Regions from separate parts of the Homo sapiens genome. Here region 1 is linked to region 2. The links come from fine-mapping of genetic effects on gene expression. A gene starts in region 2. The other region holds a variant in brackets. All regions are shown on one strand. Distances are from middle to middle.

Region 1 (10,503 bases), 28 kb before region 2:
ACAAAAGGTGGTTAGGAAGTGACTAAAGTAGGGGTTTCCAGTGCTGGCTCTATGCTAATCACCTGGAAAGGTTGTAAAAATACTGATTCTCAAGAGAATCTCATACCTTCACTCTACTGGGGTAGGGCCTAGCGTCACATTTTTCTAATATTCTAGCAAAATCTTCGAACTTAGGTGTTTGCTATAAAACTCTCTCCCAGGCAGGCCCTGCCTTCTGCAGCCCTATTGGACGATGCAAATTTCCCCAGTAGTACTCACCTGTGCTCTTCCTGCCTCAGGCAACCTCTGAATCAGTCTCCCCCACCTTATGTGAAATGGGCTTGAATAGGTTAGAAGCTGATGTGGGTTGTTGTGTTTTTTGTTTGTTTTTGTTTTTGAGAGTTTTGCTCTTGTTGCCCAGGCTAGAATGCAATGGCACGATCTCCGCTCACTGCAACCTCTGCCTCCCGGGTTCAAGCGATTCTTCTGCCTCAGTCTCCCGAGTAGCTGGGATTACAGGCACGTGCCACCACACTCAGCTAATTTTTTTTTTTTAAGTAGAGATGGGGTTTCACCATGTTGGTCAGGCTGGTCTCAAACTCCTGACCTCAGATGATCTGCCCTCCTCAGCCTCCCAAAGTGCTGGGATTACGGGCGTGAGCCACAGCGCCCAGCCAGAAGCTGATAAGTGTTAACAGCTGGGCACTTCCTGACTGCTTCCTGGCGGCTATCTTGGCCCTGGGCCTCTCCTGAAAGAGGAAACTGTATGTACTGGGGGGCATGGAGGGGGAGTGTCAGAAGGGATGTGTCATGTGCCCTGATGCCTCTATTGCTTGGGTGTTACATGGTATCTGCCATGTGGTTGATCCAGTCTGCCTGTGGTGGTGTCAATATGTGGTGTCAGGTAAAGATTCCGAGGTACAAAGACAGTACCTGTCCTGCCTCTTTCCTGACCAGTGGCAGAGCCTGTGTTCTCTTTTGTAGAGATGGGGTCTTGCTATGTTTCCCAGGCCAGTCTCAAACTCCTGGCCTCAAGCAATCCTTGGCCTCCCAAAGTGCTGGGGTTACAGGCATGAGTCACTGCACCTGGCCTTGACCCTGTGGTCTTTCTGTCCCCTTGTGGGCTGCCCTCCCTGAGCACTCAGGTATGGCTTGGGAGTACCCGGGCAGGTGATGGCCGGCAGCATTAACTTCTCACCTTTCCTCCAGGTAACTGACGATGCCCTGGTGTACAGCACCTTCCTGCTCCATGACCCCCGCCCCGTGGGAAACCTGTCCATCGTGAGGACTAACCGCGCAGAGATTCCCATCGAGTGCCGCTACCCCAGGTCGGTGTGGGACTGACTCATGGCCCCTGGTGCAAAAGCCCCTTGGGTGTGGCTGCAGGCAAGTGGGCTGGCTATGGGCTACAGCTTGCAGCATGGCTATTAGAACTACCTACCGAAGCATTTGCAGCTGTGGTTACTGTACTGCGTGGGATTGTGGGGCCTGCTGAGTCTAGTTCGAGCCCCAGAAGAGTATCAGGAGCCCAACTGCAGCTTAGCGGAAGCTTCAGAGCTGCTCAGCCCTGGTGGTGGTACTATGCCAGCCTCGGCCCTTAGGGTTCAGAAATGGCCTTCCAATAGTGCTAGGCTGGGGCCAGGTGCAGTGGCTCATCCTGTAATCCTAGCACTTTGGGAGGCTGACAGGTGGATCGCTTGAGGTCAAGGAGTTCAAGACCAGTCTGGCCTACATGGTGAAACCCCATCTCTACTAAAAACACAGAAATTAGCCGGGTGTCTATAATCCCAGCTACTTGGGAGGCTGAGGCAGGAGAATTGCTTGAACCCAGGAGGCAGAGGCTGCAGTGAGCCGAGATTGCACTGCTGTACTCCATTCTGGGCAACAAAGCGATACTCCATCGCAAAAAATAATAATAAAATAGTGCTAGGCTGCGTTCTAGAATCTGACCTGGGCGGTGGTGGCCTACTCTTCTGTGGTCCTCAAGCCCCTGGCATCAAGCACGTGCCTGTGAACTCAGGCCCTGAAGTGGGAGGAGAAACTATGGCTCCCAAGGACAACACTGGGTCCTGTGCTGGCCTCAGCATGGGGTGCAGGGGACTTTGTCCCTGCCCTTGAACCAGTCTGGGAGTGGGTATAAGATGATGCGGCCAGGTATGGTGGCTCACGCCTGTAATACCAGCCCTTTGGGAGGCCAAGGTGGGCAGCTCACGAGGTAAGGAGTTCAGGACCAGCCTGGCCAACATGGTGAAACCCATCTCTACTAAAAACACAAAAAAATTAGCCGAGTGTGGTAGCGCGTGCCTGTAATCTCAGCTACTCAGGAGGCTGAGGCAGGAGAATCATTTGAACCCAGGATGCAGAGGTTGCAGTGAGCTGAGATGGCACCATTGCACTCCAGCCTGGGCAACAGAGCAAGACTCCATCTCAAAAAGAAAATGCTAGTGTGAAGTGGGTAGGGAGCTGATACCAGTCAGGACATCATGAGGGATGAGCCATGCCCCTGGGAGGGGTCATGGTAGGGGTTATCCTAGAACAGGATCCTGGAGTGGGGGACCTTGAGGCTGAGATGGCCTGGGCAGAGCCATGTGGCCACACACCCAACGGGAGGGTAGTGTGCCCTTAGTAGGTGACATGCAGCCTGGGGGCTGGAGCCCAGGGACTGGGGTAATGAGGGAGCCAGACAGATGGGCTCACCAGCCTCACCACAGGTGCCCCTCCTGGAATGGGTGAGGACTGAATCTCCACCCAGGGTCACCTGGTGGCTGGTGCTGAAGACAAATGGGAACTAGTGAGAACCAGCTGGGAGGCTGGAAAACTGGGATTCAATGAGGCCTGACCCATGGTTGCAGGGACCGTAGAGGCTGACTCGCAGGAGCTAAGAGCAGTTGGAGGAGCTTGGTGCCTATGTGGGTAGGGGAGATGGAGGAGGATAGAGGAGTCAAGGGCAGGCTGCCCAGTCGGCATGAGGGACTGAAGCTGTCCTGTGACCGTGGAAGTCTGACTTCAGTCTCTGGGCCTGACCCCTGAGGATGGTGGCTCACCTGGTCCATTGGCTGTAGGTAGTATTAGAGAGGCTGGTTGTAGGCTGGGATGCTTTAACCTGGCTCCAGATACCTGAGTCTGGTTATCAATAGATGCATCCATCACTTGGAGTAGCTTCTTCCAGCAGATCCTATGGGGTTAGCAGGGTAGGTATCTGCAGATACCCAGACCTGCTTCCATGGACTTCCCAGTCACTGGTGTGGGTCCAGGCTCTCGGTAGCATCTCAAGACCTAAGGGCCTGTCTTTGATCTCTAAAGGATGGCCTTGGCTGGGCATGGTGGCTCACGCCTATAATCCCAGCACTTTGGGAGGCCGAGGCGGGCGGATCATGAGGTCAGGAGATGGAGACCATCCTGGCTAACGTGGTGAAACCCCGTCTCTACTAAAAATACAAAAAATTAGCCAGGCCTAGTGGCGGGTGCCTGTAGTCCCAGCTATTTGGGAGGCTGAGGCAGGAGAATGGCGTGAACCTGGGTGGTGGAGCTTGCAGTGAGCCGAGATCGTGCCACTGTACTCCAGCCTGGGAGACAAAGTGAGACTCCGTCTCAAAAAAAAAAAAAAAAGATGGCCTTAGCTGATTCCCCTCTCAAGCATCCTGTGGAGTACTGTGCAGGGCCTGCTATCAGACCCCAAACCTGAACCTCTAGGGCTAAAGTATGTGTGGTGGCTTTTGGTTTTTTGTTTAAAAAAAAAAAGTCTTACTCTGCCGCCCAGGCTGGAGTGCAGTGGGGTGCCATCATAGTTCACTGCAGCCTTGACCTCCTGGGCTCAAGCAATCCTCCCATCTCAGCCTCCTGAGTAGCTGGTATGTACTACTATGCCCAGCTATCTTTTCTTTTCTTTTCTTTTTTTTTTGAGATGGAGTCTTGCTCTGTTGCCCAGGCTGGAGTGCAGTGGTGTGATCTCAGCTCACTGCAAACTCCACCTCCGAGGTTCACGCCATTCTCCTGCCTCAGCCTCCCAAGTAGCTGGGACTAAAGGCGCCCGCCACCATGCCCGGATAATTTTATTTTTAGTGGAGATGGGGTTTCACCATGTTAGCCAGGATGGTCTCGATCTCCTGACCTCATGATCCGCCCGCCTCGGCCTCTCAAACTGCTGGGATTATAGGCTTGAGCCACCGTGCCTGGCCTCTTTTCTTTTTTATAGAGATAGAGTCTTGCTATGTTGTCCAGGCTGCTCTCAAACTCCTAGCCTCAGGCAATCCTCCAGTCTCCACCTCCCAAAGTGCTGGGATTACAGGCATGAGCCACCGCACTCAGGTCCAGGGCTCAAGAGGGAGCAGATCTCAGTCTAGAAACCAAACTCCTAGGTTCAGCTGTATCTGTCTTCAGCGGCCCAGATAGCATCATAGCATCAGTTAGGATGGCTAGGCCACTCACAGGTGCAGAAGTTCAGGAGGGTGCAGGGGCAGCCTCAGGCTCAAGGTGTCTGTTCAGCCATCTCGCACCAGCTACCTGGCTGGGCCATAGCTGAGGACCCTGTAGTGGGGTAGCAGTGAGATACTCCCCATCAGTGGGGGCCCAGGTGGGTGTGACCTGAGGCAGGTGTGCACAGCTGCTGTTCTTCTCTCAGGCAGGGCAATGTGAGCAGCCAGGCCATCCTGCCCACCTGGTTGCCCTTCAGGACCACGGTGTTCTCAGAGGAGAAGCTGACTTTCTCTCTGCGTCTGATGGAGGGTAAGAGAAGAAGGCTGGGTGGGACATCTGTGGAAAGACCTGGGCCATCTCAGACCCCTGCCCTTGGCTGTGTCTTTTTTTTGTTTGTTTGGTTTTGGTTTTGGTTGGTTTTGGTTGGTTTTGGTTGGTTTTGGTTGGTTTTTGAGACAGTCTTGATCTGACCTCCAGGCTGGAGTGCAGTGGCACGATCTCAGCTCACTGCAGTCTCCACCTCCTGGGGTTCAAACGATTCTCCTGCCTCAGCCTCCCGAGTAACTGGGACTACAGGCTTCTGACACCACACCCAGCTAACTTTT[C/G]TATTTTTAGTAGAGATGGGGTTTTGCCACGTTGGCTAGGCTGGTCTCGAACTCCTGACCTCAGGTGATCCACCTGCCTCAGCCTCCCAAGGTGCTGGGATTACAGGCATGAGCCACCATGCCCAGCTGACTGTGTCTTTCAGAGAACTGGAACGCTGAGAAGAGGTCCCCCACCTTCCACCTGGGAGATGCAGCCCACCTCCAGGCAGAAATCCACACTGGCAGCCACGTGCCACTGCGGTTGTTTGTGGACCACTGCGTGGCCACACCGACACCAGACCAGAATGCCTCCCCTTATCACACCATCGTGGACTTCCATGGGTGAGCACTGGGCTCCCTGCCTAGAGAACCTTCCTAGCAAAATGACCCTAAAGCCACCTGTTTGGCTTTTTGAGACAGTGTCACTCTGTAACCCAGGCTGGAATACAGAGGCTTGATCTCTGCCCTCTGCAACCTCTGCCTCCCAGGTTTAAGTGATTCTCCTGCCTCAGCCCCCCAAGTAGCTGAGATTACAGGTGCCCATCACCATGCCTGGCTAATTTTTGTATTTTTAGTAGAGACAAGGTTTCACCATGTTTGCCAGGCTAGTCTCGAACTCCTGACCTCAAGTGATCCACCCACCTTGGCCTCCCAAAGTGCTGGGATTATGGGCGTGAGCCACGGTGCCCGGCCCACCTGTCTGGCTTTAATACCGTTCTGTTTTCTTCCAAGCTGTCTTGTCGACGGTCTCACTGATGCCTCTTCTGCATTCAAAGTTCCTCGACCCGGGCCAGATACACTCCAGTTCACAGTGGATGTCTTCCACTTTGCTAATGACTCCAGAAACATGGTAAGAGCTTTAACAGCCTGAAAGAAGGCTGAACTTGCAACCTTCATATCCTACTGAATGGGGTCACTCACTAGCTCCACCCCTAAGCAAATGACTTAGAGCTGTGTCCCAGTAACTCAAACTTACAAGTAAAGCCATGAGCTTTAGCGAGGCCTTCAAGCAGAAGGATGAACAATATGAAGCCTTAAGAGGTAGAGGCCGGGCACGGTGGCTCATGCTTGTAATCCCAATACTTTGGGAGGCCGAGGGGGGTGGATCACTTGAGGTCAGGAGTTCAAGACCAGCCTGGCCAACATAGTAAAACCCCGACTCTACTAAATATACAAAAAAAATTAGCTGAGTGTGGTGGTTGGGTACCTGTAATCCCAGCTACCTGGGAGGCTGAAGCAGGAGAATAGCTTGAACCTGGGAGGCAGAGGTTGCAGTGAGCAGAGATTGTGCCACTGCACCTCCAGCCTGAGTGACAGTGAGACTCCATCTCCAAAAAAAAAAAAAAAGGCAGGTGTTAGCCTTCCTGGAGGCTTTCTGCAGGGGCAAAGAAAACCAGTGTGAACTTCGTAGCCAGGGTGGCTTCTTGAACTTGGTCATAGGTTAGGCTAGTGATTCTGAAGGCATCATCCTCAGCTGGAGGGCTTGTTGAAATTGATGACTGGGCCCCAACCCAGGGTTTGATTCAGGTGGTCTAGTGAAGCCTAGAATCTGCATTCTTAAGTGTTGGTTCTGCCAGTCTGGGTCCTCCCCTTGAGAACCTAAACTAGAAAACTCAAATTGACACTAAGAGGGAAGGAGAAGGAAGGAATGAAGATGGGAACTGCCTAATGGCTGAGGTGGGGGAGGGATGCAGTAGGAAGTGCAGGTGCAAGGACCAACATCTAGCCGGGAAGTACTGGTAAGTGGTTAGAAGTAAATTGCCTGGTGCGGTGGCTCGTGCCCATAATCCCAGCACTTTGGGAGGCTGAGGCGGGCAGATCACGAGGTCAGGAGATTGAGACCATCCTGGTTAACACGGTGAAACCCCCTCTACTAAAAATACAAAAAATTAGCTGGGCATGATGGTGGGCACCTGTAGTCCCAGCCACTCCAGGTTCCCAGGTGCAAGTGATTCTCCTGCCTCAGTCTCCCAAGTAGCTGGGAGTACAGGTACCCGCCACCATGCCTGGCTAATTTTTTTGTATTTCTAGTAGAGACAAGGTTTTACCATGTTGTCCAGGCTGGTCCCAAACTCCTGACCTCAGGTGATCCGCCTGCCTCGGTCTCCCAAAGTGCTGGAATTACAGGCGTGAGCCACCATGCCCAGCCTCAAGTAGCTTTTAAACAAGCTCACTGAGATGAGAGGTGAGGCGGTGAGCTTAGAATAGGTGGTTAGGAAGTGATTAAAGTAGGGGTTTCCAGTGCTGGCTCTATACTAATCATCTGGAGAGGTTGTAAAAATACTGATTGTAGAGAGTCTCATACCTTCACTCTATTGGGGTAGGGCATGGTGTCACATTTTGTAACATTAACTAAATCTTCATAGGTGTTTGCTGTAAAACTCCATGAACTTCAGTGTGCACACCATCTAGGTTCTACCACCAGCATTTTTTTTTTTTTTTTGAGACAGTCTCACTCTGTCACCCAAGCTGGAATGCAATGGTGCGGTCTTGGCTCACTGCAACCTCTGCCTCCGGGTGCAAGCAATTCTGCCTCAGCCTCCTGAGTAGCTGGGATTGTAGGCGCCTGCCACCATGCCCGGCTAATCCTTGTATTTCTTAGTAGAGACAGGGATTCATCATTTTGGCCAGGCTGGTCTTGAACTCTTGACCTCATTATCCAACCGCCTCAGCTTCCCAAAGTGCTGGGATTATAGGCATGAACCACCACGCGCCCCCCGCCCCCTTTTTTTTTTTTTTTTTTTTTTTTTTTTTTTTTTTTTTTTTTTTTGAGAGGGTCTCTGTCACCCAGGCTGGAGTACAGTGGCCCAATCTTAGGTCACTGCAACTTCCACCTCCCAGGCTCAAGCGATTCTCCTGCCTTAGCCTCCCAAGTAGCTGAGATTGTAGGCATACGCCACTACTGAGTGCCTGTTATATTTTTAGTAGAGATGGTTTCACCATATTGGCCAGGCTGGTCTTGAATACCCGACCTCAAACGATCCACCTGCCTTGGCCTCCCAAAGTGCTGGGATTACAGGCGTGAGCCACTGTACCCGGCCTGCTAGCATTTTACTGTTATCCTCCATCTACTGACCTACCTTATTCTACTTGGAAATGCATCAAAAGCCACTTAAGCTCCTAGGTGACTCTAATACGCAGCCAGGCTTGCAAACCTCTGAAGCAGAGGCTCATACGTCAGGGTGGCATTAAGGGACAAAGTAGAAACTTTTCAAAGATGACATCGATGCCACTTCACCTCCTCCAGCAGCTGCCTTGTGGGAAGAGAAAGATCAACACACAGATCAGTAGGGTAGCAAAAGGGAAAAGCATCTAATATTGATGAGATGGCCTGAAGCTCTCAGTGGTGGGCCCTGCTTCAGTGGGGCTGGGGATAAAGGAGGGCAGATTTGGGAAAAGAGTCCTGGCCCTCGGATCAGTGACCGATAGCTCCTTAGGGGAGAGGATCCTGGTTGTGGGAGGAAGTCAAGATTGACCTCAGGTGTGGCCATTTGGGAAGAAGATGGAGAGAAGTTTTCACAGAGGTGGTAGCGGTCAGCATGGGTATGGACTGAGGTGGTTTCTCAATCTCTGGGGGTTGAGGGGTAACTAAGACCAGAGAACAGTGCTGTTTAATGGAAGATAGTCTGAGCCCTTGGAGGGCCCCCCTTCAAAGGTAGGATTGATGATGCCTCAGTAGACTATGTCCCATGGCACAAAGAAGGAACAACCCTATTTCAGAGCAATAGGGTGGCTGGGCACGGTGGTTCACATCTGTAATCCCAGCACCTTGGGAGGCCGAGGTGGGAGGATCAGAGTTCAGGTGTTTAAGGCTGCAGTGAGCTATGATGGTGCTATTGCCCTCAACAGAGCAAGACCCTGTGTACTTTTTTTTTTTTTTTTTTTTTTTGGACAGAGTCTCGCTCTGTCACCCAGGCTGGAATGCAATGGCATGATCTCGGTTCACTGCAACCTCCACCTCCTTATTCAAGCCATTCTCCTGCCTCAGCCTCCCTAATAGTTGGAATTATAGGCACTCAATCACCACGCCTGGCTAATTTTTGAATATTTAGTAGAGATGGGGTTTCACTATGTTGGTCAGGCTGGTCTTAAACTCCTGACCTCAGGTGATCCACCTGCCTCAGCAAGTGCTGGGATTACAGGCATGAGCTATCACACTCCCCTCTTTTTTTTTTTTTTTTTGTTTTTTTTTGGGGGGAAATGGAGTGTCACTCTTGTTGCCCAGGCTAGAGTGCAATGGCGTAATCTCAGCTCACTGCAACTTCCCATCTCCCAGGTTCAAGCAATTCTTCCATTCCAGCCTCCCAAGTAGCTGGGATTATAGGCACCTGCCACCATGCCCAGCTAATTTCTGTATTTTTTTTTTTTTTTTTAGTAGAGATGGGGTTTCACCATGTTGGCCAGGCTGGTCTCAAACTCCTGACCTCAGGTGATCCACTGACCTCAGCCTCCCAAAGTGCTGGGATTACAGGCATGAGCCACCACGCCCAGCCTAGACCCTGCTTCTAAAAGGCCGCTATAGGGGAACTGCCCTGGGATCTTAGACTCCAGTTAGCACCAGAAAAACATACTAGGAAAAAGCTAAGGATGAAAGTACATTTCCTTTGTGGAATAGACAACAGGGCCTTGGAAGCTTCTTACTTGCAGGGCAGGTGGCTAAGATGGGCAGCTGGACAACTGCTAAACTGGCTTGTTTCTAAAAGTCTGAATTTACATGGTTTCAAGTTTCTCTGCTGGTGTACTTGGCCACTAGGTGGTGACTGAGGCTTGTGGCTCTGAGGCTTCTGCTGGAAGGTGGCAGAATTGCCATGCTCTGCCCGAGGTTGAGCAGGGAGGAATTTTAGCCCTGCCTGAAATATGAAGGGAAACTGACCTGGGGACGGGCCAAGGCTAGACTGAGCCCTGGCTCTGTCAGAATGGCCCCTAGCCCCAGCAGCAGGATGGAATGTCAGTCTAAAATGAGAAGGCTTGGCCAGGTACGGTGGCTCATGCCAATAATCCCAGCACTTTGTGAGGCCAAGGCAGGTGGATCACTTGAGGCCAGGAGTTCAAGACAAGCCTGGCCAACATGGGGAAACCCCATCTCTACTACAAATACAAAAACTAGCCTGGTGTGGTGGTGGGTACCCGTAATCCCATCTACTTGGGAGGCTGAGGCAAGAGAATCGCTTAAACCTCGGAGGTAGTGGCTACAGTGTACTCCAGCCTGGACTAGAGACAGACTCCGTCTCAGAAAAAAAAAAAAAAAAAAAGGGTAGCGGGGCAGTGCTTACAGGGTAGTTGACTATTCCCTGGGTGGTGGGGGGTCTTTCAGCTCCCAGCAGGAGCTCATATTGGGTTCATTCCCTCGTACTTGTCTAACGAGGGTGGGTAAACGTTTCCCAGAGGCCAGGACTGTCAGGGTATCAGCCTGGTGAGTCTTCTGGTCGTCATATCCCTTACAGGTGAAGGGAGACTGACGTAGGCTTGACTAATAGCAGAGGTATGTGCAAGGAAGAAAAGCCCAGGGAAGCTTGCCCAAAGA
Region 2 (10,503 bases):
CAAGATCATGCCACTGCACTCCAGCCTTGGCGACACAGAGAGACTCTGTCTCAAAAAAAAAAAAAAAAAAAAGATGGCTTTACAGCCCTGAGGAGTAAACCAGTCTTCCCCAAATAATTATCTTATGTAAGTCCCAGCCCCTTGGAACATGTTTTGAAAGGGCTCACCCATCTGGGCAGGTGACTCACGCCTGTAATCCCTGCACTTTGGGAGGCTGAGGCAGGCGGATCACCTGAGGTCAGAAGTTCAAGACCAGCCTGGCCAACATGGCGAAACCCATCTCTACTAAAAATACAAAAATTAGCCAGGCATGGTGGGACACGCCTGTAGTCTCAGCTACTTGGGAGGCTGAGGCAGGAGAATCACTTGAATATGGGAGGTGGAAGTTGCAGTGAGCCGGGATCATACCATTGCACTCTAGCTTGGGCAAGAAGAGCGAAACCCCATCTCAAAAACAAAAGAAAAGGCTCACCCTTTTCACTGGTTCCCTTGTGGCAAATCTAAAATAAGGTACGTGTGCTCGCCGTTCATTCATCTGAAAAGTTTGCAAATACCCTCTACCCCATACCCCACCCCCACGTGTTGTCCTTTTTTTTTTTTTTTTTTATTTGAGACAGAGTCTCACCAGGCTGGAGTGCAGTGGTGCAATCTCGGCTCACTACAAGCTCTGCCTCCCGGGTTCGCGCCATTCTCCTGCCTCAGCCTCCCAAGTAGCTGGGACTACAGGCGCCCGCCACCATGCCCGGCTAATTTTATTTTATTTTATTTTTGTATTTTTAGTAGAGACGGGGTTTCTCCATGTTAGCCAGGATGGTCTTGATCTCCTGACCTTGTGATCCGCCCGCCTCGGCCTCCCAAAGTGCTAGGATTACAGGCATGAGACACCGCACCCGGCCCTTTTTTTTTTTAAGAGACAAGATGTCACCCTGTCACCCAGGCTGGAATGCAGTGGTGTCGTCATAGCTCACTGCAGCCTGGACCCCCTGGGCTCAAGTGATCCTCCTGCCTCAGTCTCCCAAGTAGCTGGGACCACAGGGGTGTCCCACCACACCCAGCTAATTTTTTTATTTTTTGTAGAGATGGGGTCTTGTCTTGTCACCCAAGCTGGTCTTAAACTTCTGAGCTCAAGCGATCCTCCCACTTGGACCTAGCCAGGTGCTGGGATTATGGGTATTAGAGTTTAAATTTCTTTGCTCAACACCACTCCCCATTTTGTGGCCAACAGTCACATTCTTTCTTGGGCCACGTCATTCATTTTCAGTTGCTTCAGAGCACTGGTGGCCCCTTGGGTGTGTTGAACAAACCCCAGCCTTTGAGGAGTTCAAAAAAAAAAAAAAAAAAAAAGACACCATCTCTAGGCGGAAAATTTCAGACAAAGAACCCCTGCCAGGAATATTTCCTGCCGCTGCTCCTGCCACTGCCCCTTAGGCTGTGGACCTTTATGCAAGAACGCAAGTGGCAAACTGCCCTACTGTGTATGTTGTGGGGAGTGGGGGTACTGCCAGAGAAGAGAGAGCCCTATTTTATTTTATTTTATTTTATTTTAAAGACAGAGTCTCACTCTGTTGCCCAGGCTGGAGTGCAATGGCACGATCTCGGCTCACTGCAACCTCTGCCCCCTGGGTTCAAGAGATTCTCCTCCCTCAGCCTCCCCAGTAGCTGGGATTACAGGCGCATGCCACCACGCCTGGCTAATTTTTGTATTTTTAGTGGAGACGGGGTTTCCCCATGTTGGCCAAACTCCTGACCTTATGTGATCCTCCCACCTTGGCCTCCCAAAGTGCTGGGATTAGAGGCATGAGCCACTGTGCCCAGCTGACAGCCCTCTCTAAATCTTTAAAAATTCAGTCAGGCGTGGTGGCTCATGGCTGTAATCTCAGCACTTTAGGAGGCTGAGGCAAGAGGAATGTGTGAGCCCAGGAGTTTGAGACCAACTTGGGCAATATGGTGAGACCCTATCTTGACAGAAAATACAAAAATCAGCCTGGCATGGTGGTGCACGCTTGTAGTCCCAGCTACTCAGGAGGCTGAGGCAGGAAGATCACTTGAACCCAGGAGGTCGAGGCTGCAGTGAGCTATGATCACGCCACTGTACTCCAGCCTGGGAGACACTGTCTCAAAAAATAAATAAATAAAATCTTTAACAATTCTTCAGCTTATCCGCCTACCTTCTGGGGCTTCTTGGGTCTCTTCCCAGAAACTTTCTTCGTCTGTAAGCCCGTTTATTGTATGCAATTGTTTAAAAAACACAAATGGGTGCATATTCTCATATTCTCTACCCTCTATTTTGAACGTTCCTTTTTTTTCTTTTTTTCAGACCGAGTCTCAGTCTGTCACCCAGGCTAGTGCAATGGTGCAATTTTGGCTCACTACACCCTCTGCCTCCCAGATTCAAGCGATTCTCCTGCCTCAGCCTCCCGAGTAGGTGGATTACAGGTGTGCACCGCTGCACCCAGCTAATTTTTGTATTTTTAGTAGAGACGAGGTTTCACCATGTTGGCCAGACTGGTCTTGAACTCCTGATCTCAGGTGATCCACCTGCCTCCGCCTCCCAAAGTGCTGGGATTATAGGCATGAGCCGCCTTGCCTGGCTCAAAGTTCCTTTTTGGTTTAACAATAGATCTAGGCCACTGTGAGTCTTCCTCATTCCTTCTAGGGCTACCTAGTGTTCCGGGGTTATTTAACCAGCCCCCTCCTACCAGGCAGTTCTTTTGTCTCTGGCCCTTTGCTACGTATATTAGTTTAAAGTTCACTTTGCAAGTGGCCAAGCCTGTTTCCCTCATTTCCAGGTTCCCAGGGGGCAGACATCCTGCTGCAATTTCAGAAGTCAGCACACTCTTCTCTCTCCTGTCTAAAATACAAAAGTCCATGCCCCCCACTCTCCCTCTTGATACTGTCCTATTTTACTTCTTTTCACAACCAGAACTCTTTATTTTTCCCAAATAAAAATAGTCCGTCTTTTCAGATTTTAAAAATGGAACTCTGGCCGGATGCGGTGGCCCTCACCTGTAATCCCAGCACTTTGGAAGGCTGCAGTGGGCAGATTACCTGAGGTCAGGAGTTTGAGATCAGCCTGGCTGACATGGTGAAACTCTGTCTCTACTAAAAATACAAAAATTAGCCCGGATGCGGTGGCTCACATCTGTAATCCCAGTACTTTGGGAGACCGAGGTGGGCAGATCACGAGGTCAGGAGTTCAAGACCAGCCTGGCCAACATGGTGAAACCCTGTCTCTACTAAAATACAAAAATTAGCTGGGCATGGTGGCATCCGCCTGTAATCACAGTTACTCGGCAGGCTGAGGAAGAATTGCTTGAACCTGGGAGGCGGAGTTTGCAGTGAGCTGAGATTGTGCCATTGCACTCCAGCCTGGGCGACAGAGCAAGACTCCGTCTCAAAAATATATATATATACAAAAATTAGCTGAGTGTGGTGGTGCATGCCTGTAATCCCAGCTACTCGGGAGGTGAGGCAGGAGAATCACTTGAACCTGGGAGGCGGAGGTTGCAGTGAGCCGAGATTGTGCCATTTCACTCCAGCCTGGACAACAAGAGCAAAACTCGTCTCAAAAAAAAAAAAAAGGAAAATAAAAATCCCTGATAAAGGATCAATGACCTTAGGATAATGTCATTCCAGGTAAGTATCTTTAACTGGGTACTTGGTCCTCCAAGATTCAGAGGACCTTGATCCCCCTGAAACTGTATACATAATATTCAACATACATAGTATGTGCACACATGTGCAAACACTCACATTATCTAAAATTCATCATAATCTTACCCCGGCTTCTCCCCACACTCCTCAGATCCTGCTATAGCCTAGTGCATTTTCTCCTTCCTCACTCCCTTCCCTCCATGTGTCCTCTGCCCTGGCCACCAGGAACTTTGTGCTGCCTCCGGAGTGCATGAGGCACTTTCACATCTCTCTTGCTTTACAAGAGCTTCCCTATGCTCCAACTGGCAAATTTCTCTATGGACTGAAAAACCCACATAGCCTTTATCTGTCTTGTGATGTCTTCTCCCCACCCTCAAGTTAGGCATACCCTTCTATGCCCTCCTTTATCCAAACATTTTCCCCACTATATCGTAATTGTGTGTTTAAGTGCCGGACTTTCCAACTAGATACAAAGCTTTCCCAGGAAAGAAATCCTTTTCTTTTCTTCTTTCTTTCTTTTCTTTTCTTTTCTTTCTTTTTTTTTTTTTTTTTTTTGAGACAGATTCCCACTGTGTCGTCCAGGCTGGAGTGCAGTGGCACAATCTTGGCTCAGTGCAACCTCCACCTCCAGGGTTCAAGTGATTCTCTTGCCTCAGTCTTCCAAGTAGCTGGGATTACAGGCACGCGCCACCACACCCAGTTAATTATTATTATTATTATTATTTTTTTTTTTTTTTGAGACGGAGTCTCGCTCTGTCACCCAGGCTGGAGTGCAGTGGCACAATCTCGGCTCACTGCAAGCTCCGCCTCCCGGGTTCACGCCATTCTCCTGCCTCAGCCTCCCGAGTAGCTGGGACTACAGGAGCCCACCACTACGCCCGCTTAATTTTTTTTTTTTTTTGTATTTTTAGTAGAGACGGGGTTTCACCGTGGTCTCGATCTCCTGCCCTCGTGATCCGCCCGCCTCGGCCTCCCAGAGTGCTGGGATTACAGGCGTGAGCCACTGCGCCCGGCCTCCACACCCAGTTAATTTTTGTATTTTTAGTAGAGACGGGGTTTCACCATGTTGGCCAGGATGGTCTCAATCTCTTGACCTTGTGATCTGGCTGCCTCGGCCTCCCAAAGTGCTGGGATTACAGGCGTGAGCCACCGCTCCCGGCGAGAAACCTTTTCTTTTTCTTTTTTCTTCTTCTTCGTCTTTTTTTTTTTTTCTTTTGAGAGGGATTCCTGTTCCGTCGCCCAGGCTGGAGTGCAATGGCGCGATCTTGGCTCACTACAGCCTCTGCCTCCCGGGTTCAAGCGATTCTCTTGCCTCAGCCTCCCGAGTAGCTGGGATTACAGGCACGAGCCACCACGCCCGGCTAGTTTTTTTTGGTATTTTTAGTAGAGACGGGGTTTCGCCATGATGGCCAGGCTGGTCTGGAACTCCCGACCTCAGGTGATCCGCCCACCTCTGCCTCTCAAAGTGCAGGGATTACAGGCATGAGCCACTGCGCCCAGCCAAGAAACCATTTCTGATTCACCTATTCACTCCCGCACTCCCACTACACAGTAGCTAAATAAATAAATAAATATTAAAAATAAATAGGAAAGAAAGAGAGAAAAAAAGAAAAGAAAAAGACAAAAATTTAAATTTAAAAAGGTTGTGCTCGATGGCTCACACTTGCAACCCCAGTGCTTTGGGAGGCTGAATGAAGCAAGAGGATCGCTTGAGGCCAGGAGTTTGAGATCGGCCTGAGCAACGTTGCAGCATTGCAAAACCCCCATCTGTACAAAAAAGAAAAATAAAATTAATTTTAAAAACAAAAAAAGAGAAACAGTAGCACATGTATGTACTGGCACCATGTATGTACTAGTAAAAACTAGTTAAAATTAAGTCAGTAATTAATGAAGGAATAAGTCAATGAGTGAGCAGGCGAAGGAAGAAAACATAGACCGGAGCAGGTGCGCCTTGGGTTGAGCCCTTCCCCGCTGAGCCCCGCCTTCTGCCCGCCCCTGGGCCCTACCGGGACTACATTTCCCAGAAGGCCGCACGCCCCGGGCATGCGCAGCGGCTCGCTCGGAAGCTGCGACGCCGAGTTTCACTCTGGCTGCCTTCTCCTGAGAGTCGGAGCCACAGCCAGAGCCCTGCCCAGGCCGAGCCGGAGCTGCAGCCCGAGCGCGGTGGTGCCCTCAGCCCCGTCCTCTTGTCCTCCTCAGCCTCGGTGAGAGGGCGGGAAGGCCACCTGCGCGTCGCTAGGGCTGCGGTCCCAGGGGCGCGGGGTGGCGCGGGGAGCCGGAGCCTAGCTGGGACCGGAAGGGGGCGGGCGTGGGTGTGAGGGGGACCGACGGCCGGGGCGGCGGGGACACCCGGGGGTCCCGGGAGATCGGGGGTGTCGGGGGGATCGGTCTCCGGGATCAAGGTCCTGAGGGCGAGAGTTGGGGGACTTGGGAGGCGCCGGCAGCTTTGGACGGGACAGGGTGCCGGGTGCGAAAGGGGACGTTCGGATGAAGGCTGAGGGGCTCGCAGGCGGAGGGGCGCGGTTCCGGGTCGCTCGGAAGGCGCGCACCCCTTCCCAAAGTACCCAGAGGAGGGGGTGACGAGATTGCCACCGGCTCCCTGACGAGGGGTTGGTCCTGCTGGGGTCTACCCCCAGGTGAAGGGACTCACTGGGCCGGGGGTTGTACTTTGGAGGAGTTTGCTTCCTAACTCTGCTTCCCTGCTTTCCTGTGGGGGGTCTTCCCAGGAGTTCCTGGGGCCCTGGGTCACTTTTTGGGGTGCGTAAGGGGTGCCGAAAAAGATTTAGAACTCGGTTCCCTTTTCTGGAGCTGCGCTTTCATCGCGACTGTCTCAGCCAGCTGCCCTCCTCCTCCAAGCTGGCTCCACTTCTCTAAGCGCCAACAGCGATGGAAATAAATAGCATGTGTACAGACGCCTGGACCCTTGAGAAACTCAGAATATTTCTGCATGCCTTCCTAGCTCCTCTAGCGCTCTAGAAGGTAGACTTTCTGGTAGCCACCATCCGGGCTTAAGCCATCCGGATAGCAAGCCCTCTGATTCGGTTGCTCTGTGACCTTAAATATTTACCCTCTCTGGTGTGTTGATTTCCTGGATGCTTAGCTGCCAGACTGGCTTATGAAGTCCTTTTAGAGTTTTCTGTAAAAGGGCTCAGGCCAGGCACGGTGGCTCATGCCTGTAATCCCAGCCCTTTGGGAGGCCGAGGTGGAAGGATCATTTGAGTCCAGGAATTTGAGACAAGCCTGGGAAACGAAGAGGATTCCTGAGATCACTGTCTCTATAAAAAATCAGATGGGCGTGTTGGTGGGTGCCTGTAGTCCCAGCTACTTGGGAGGCTGAGGCAGGAGGATCGCTTGAGCCCAGGAGTTGGAGGCTGCAGTGAGCTGTGATCACACCACTGCACTGCAGCATGGGCGACAGAGGGAGACCCCGTCTCAAAAAACAAAAAACAAACAAACTAAAAAAACGAACTTTTTTTTTTTTTTAAGAAAAGGGCTCAGAGCCAGGCGTGGTGACTCGAGCCTATAATCCCAGCTACTCGGGAAGCTGAGGCAGGAGAGTAGCTTGAACCTGGGAGGCGGAGGCTGCAGTGAGCCGAGATCACGCCACTGCACTCCAGCTTGGGTGACAGAGCAAGACTCCGTCTCCAAAAACTAATAATAATAAAAAATTTTAAAAAGAGCTCAGGGTTTTTTTGTTTGTTTGCTTTTTGTTGTTTCTTCAACCATCTCCTTGATTGTTAAGTGGGTGGAGGAAGACTGTTGTACCTCCTGCTCCACCCAGGCTATTGGAAAATAAATCTGGTGATTTTCAGTCCCCAGGCACAGCACACGGATCCAACATCTGTACCTTTGTTTTTACTAACTGCTGTTTCTTAATTTAAAACCTGATCATCTTCTTCCTCGTTGGCAAAGGTGCCTTGGAATTTGTGTCGCTGAGTCAGCAAGCCTTTCAGATTTGCCCGGTTTTTGTTGTTTGTGGTTTGTATCAAGATGGGAACTCAAACAAGTCATTCCTCCTAAGGAGCTGGTGTCTTCATCCAGAAGGGACAGTTTGTGCCAGCTCTCCAGAGAGAAAAGGTGAGAGCCATGGGGACTTGACCTTGCTGCCTTCTCTATCTGGTGCAGAGAAGGTGGGGATTGGGGAGGGTGGAATTTGAGGTCTGCAGGATAAACGTGTGCCCTGGGAGTTGACTGTTGATTGCCACCTGTCTCAAATAAATTGCAGTGGCGTCTTGCCACTGCTTCTCCTGTTTAACTAACTAGTCTTAGAAGATGCTTTCCACTTTAAGACATGCTTTATGGGATAGAAGACACAAGTCACGATTTCTGCATTTGAAGTGGCAGTTTTCATTTCTTTTGTTGCATAAACCCTTACTGGGTGCCAGATAAGATCTCTGTCTTTTGGGAGTGCATTGTTTGGTGGAAAAGACAAAGCAGAGTCAGTGACAAGGTGTTGTCAGTGTGATATATACTGAGCTGGGAGAAATCACAAGGCTCTCCTACCCACATCCAGAAAGGGGACGGTTAGAGGGAAGGTCAGGAAGGCTCCTGGAAGGTGGTAGTTGAGGGGGGTTGTGAAGGAGGAGTAGGACTTAGAAAGTGGGGCACAGTCACCTGGGAGAGGAGTCAGCGTTTGCAAAGTCATGAAGCTACCGGGACACAGCTGGGCTACTGTAAGTAGCTTAGTATGTAATAGAGGAGGCTGGAAAAGCAGGCAGAGGGCTCTGAGCGAGGAGGGTTATGTGGGCCATGCCAAGACTCGGGAGTGGAAGGATTTTAGGAGATTTCTATGAGGGTCATTTTATTAATTATTTTTTTGAGTTGGGGTCTGCTTCTGCTGCCCAGGCTGGAGTGCAGTGGAGTGATCATAGTTCACCACAGCCTCAAATTCCTGGGCTCTGGGGTAGCTGAGGTGCCTACCACCATACCCGACTAATAATTTTATCTAGAGACAGTGCCGCTCTACGTTGTCCAGGCTGGTCTCTAACTCCTGGCCTCAAGGGATCCTCCCATCTCAGCCTCCCAAAGTGCTAGGATTACAGGCCTGAGCCACCGTGCCTGGCCTCGTGAGGGACATTTTAATGGAGCACACTGGAACATGTGGAATGGGTTTAGACTGGATTATTCGCTTTGTGGCGGTCTTCTTACATACATCATGCCAGCTTCTTCGTGGGGAGAGGCAGGTGAGTGGTTTTGCCCTCAGTTGCTTATAGTCTAGTTGAAGAGATAAAGTGAACATAGAGAACTGAAAAGGAACTTGCTAAGAGGGTGTTTTCTTTCATTCTTTTTGTTGTTGTTGTTTTGTTTTGTTTGTTTACTTTTTGAGACAGGGTCTTACTCTGTCACCCAGGCTGGAGAGCGGTGGTGCAATCTCAGCTCACTGCTCAACTTCACCTCCCAGGCTCAAGAGGTTCTTGTGCCTCAGCTTCCCGAGTAGCTGGACTTACAGGTGCACACCATCATGCCTGGCTGATTTAGAGGGTGTTTGCTTTCTGCTGGGCACATCCAGGCATCGTGGGAAGTGCTGTTTAAATTGGGCCATAAAAGGGTGGGTAAGGTGAGGACAGGGGACCAAGTGGGTGGGATTCAGGGTGAAGCAGAGTCATGGGGGTGGGGACAGACACGCTGATGCACATGGGAGTAGTGGATCCTCATTTACACTCTGGAAGGGAATTGTGGAGAGGGAGGTATAGATGAGGGGATGGAAGGGAAGGGCACCGGCAAATATTGTTGATAGCGAGGGAAGGGCGGTATTGTGATCGGCTTTGACTGTCAGCCTAAGGAATTTGAATTTCATTCTAGAGATCCAGGGGAGGTGTGTAAAAGACAAGATCAGAACGTTAGTTCAGGAAGCTTAATCTTTTCTGCCCCCCCATCTGAGATGTACAAGAGGGTTAGAAAGCAGAGTTGGAGAAGCTGTTTGGGAGGGAGCACTTATTTGTTTTTTTGTTTTGTTTTGTTTTTTTGAGATGGAGTCTCGCTCTGTTACCCAGGCTGGAGTGCAGTGGCGCCATCCTGGCTCACTGCAACCTCCACCTCCCGGGTTCAAGTGATTCTCCTGCCTCAGCTTCCCAAGTAGCTAGGACTACAAGCACCTGCCACCATGCCTGGCTAATTTTTGTATTTTTAGTAGAGACGGGGTTTCCCTCTGTTGGCCAGGCTGGTGTCGAACTCCTGACCTCAGGTGATGCACCCACCGAGGCCTCCCAAAGTGCTGGGATTACAGGCGTGAGCCACTGCGCCCGGCAGGGAGGGGGTAAAGTGAGAGGCATAAGGGTCCCGGCCAGGTGTTAGCAGGGGGCTTCAGAGGTGAGGAGAGAGCAGGGCAGGCAGCTGCTAGGCCTGGGGGAGCGGGCTGCGGAGGACTGAGAATCTGAGGTTTTTCTCTTGGCCGCCTGGGGGAAATCCAGGGGGAAAAGGAGAATGAGGAAGGAAGATGCGTTTGGCCTCAGACGTGTTGAAGGTATTAAGAGGCCAACAGGAAATGAGGCCATGGGCTAGAGAGAAGAGCCCTGATTCATTCCCCAAATGCCTCCCGAAATTCTGTGCGCCGAGGCTTGTGTTTGGCACTTGGAGTACAAAGATGAATTCAGCAGTCTCTTTGGTGTTTGCCTTATCAGCTAAGCTGAGAACAAGATTGATTAGTACACACTCCTCAGTGTTCATGCCTGACCTACTTTTCCTTATTTAGTAAGTTATTTTTAATAAATGTAGTAAGCTCTGGCAATCTAGGCACCCAAAACAAAAGCTGGGATCATGAAACAAAAGTATATATCTAATCTTTTTTTTTTAATTTTAAAAAACTTTAAAAAGTTTTCTACTTTATCAGGTCCCCTTAGAACATCTAAT

Direction of the effects. Alleles are on the strand shown, and positions count from the first base shown. SD is a standard deviation of normalised expression in the study named.
As copies of C replace G in region 1, the expression in monocytes after LPS of the gene that starts at base 5,731 in region 2 goes down (large effect, 1.2 SD a copy in Quach 2016).

Evidence for each region.
Region 1: its variant is fine-mapped to the expression of DTX2 in monocytes after LPS (Quach 2016, PIP 0.95).

Annotation. Positions count from the first base shown.
Region 1 is chr7:76,428,327-76,438,829 of GRCh38, forward strand. It overlaps ZP3 (zona pellucida glycoprotein 3), which reads left to right. Exons shown (of 8, transcript NM_001110354.2): 2 at 1,189-1,307; 3 at 4,601-4,704; 4 at 5,144-5,321; 5 at 5,712-5,829. Among named protein-coding and RNA genes, the nearest start is that of ZP3, 8.6 kb to the left of the region's middle. The variant C/G (reference allele first, on the strand shown) is at 5,001.
Region 2 is chr7:76,455,979-76,466,481 of GRCh38, forward strand. It overlaps DTX2 (deltex E3 ubiquitin ligase 2), which reads left to right and starts at 5,731. Exons shown (of 11, transcript NM_001102594.3): 1 at 5,731-5,858; 2 at 7,567-7,731. RefSeq lists an enhancer at 230-1,103.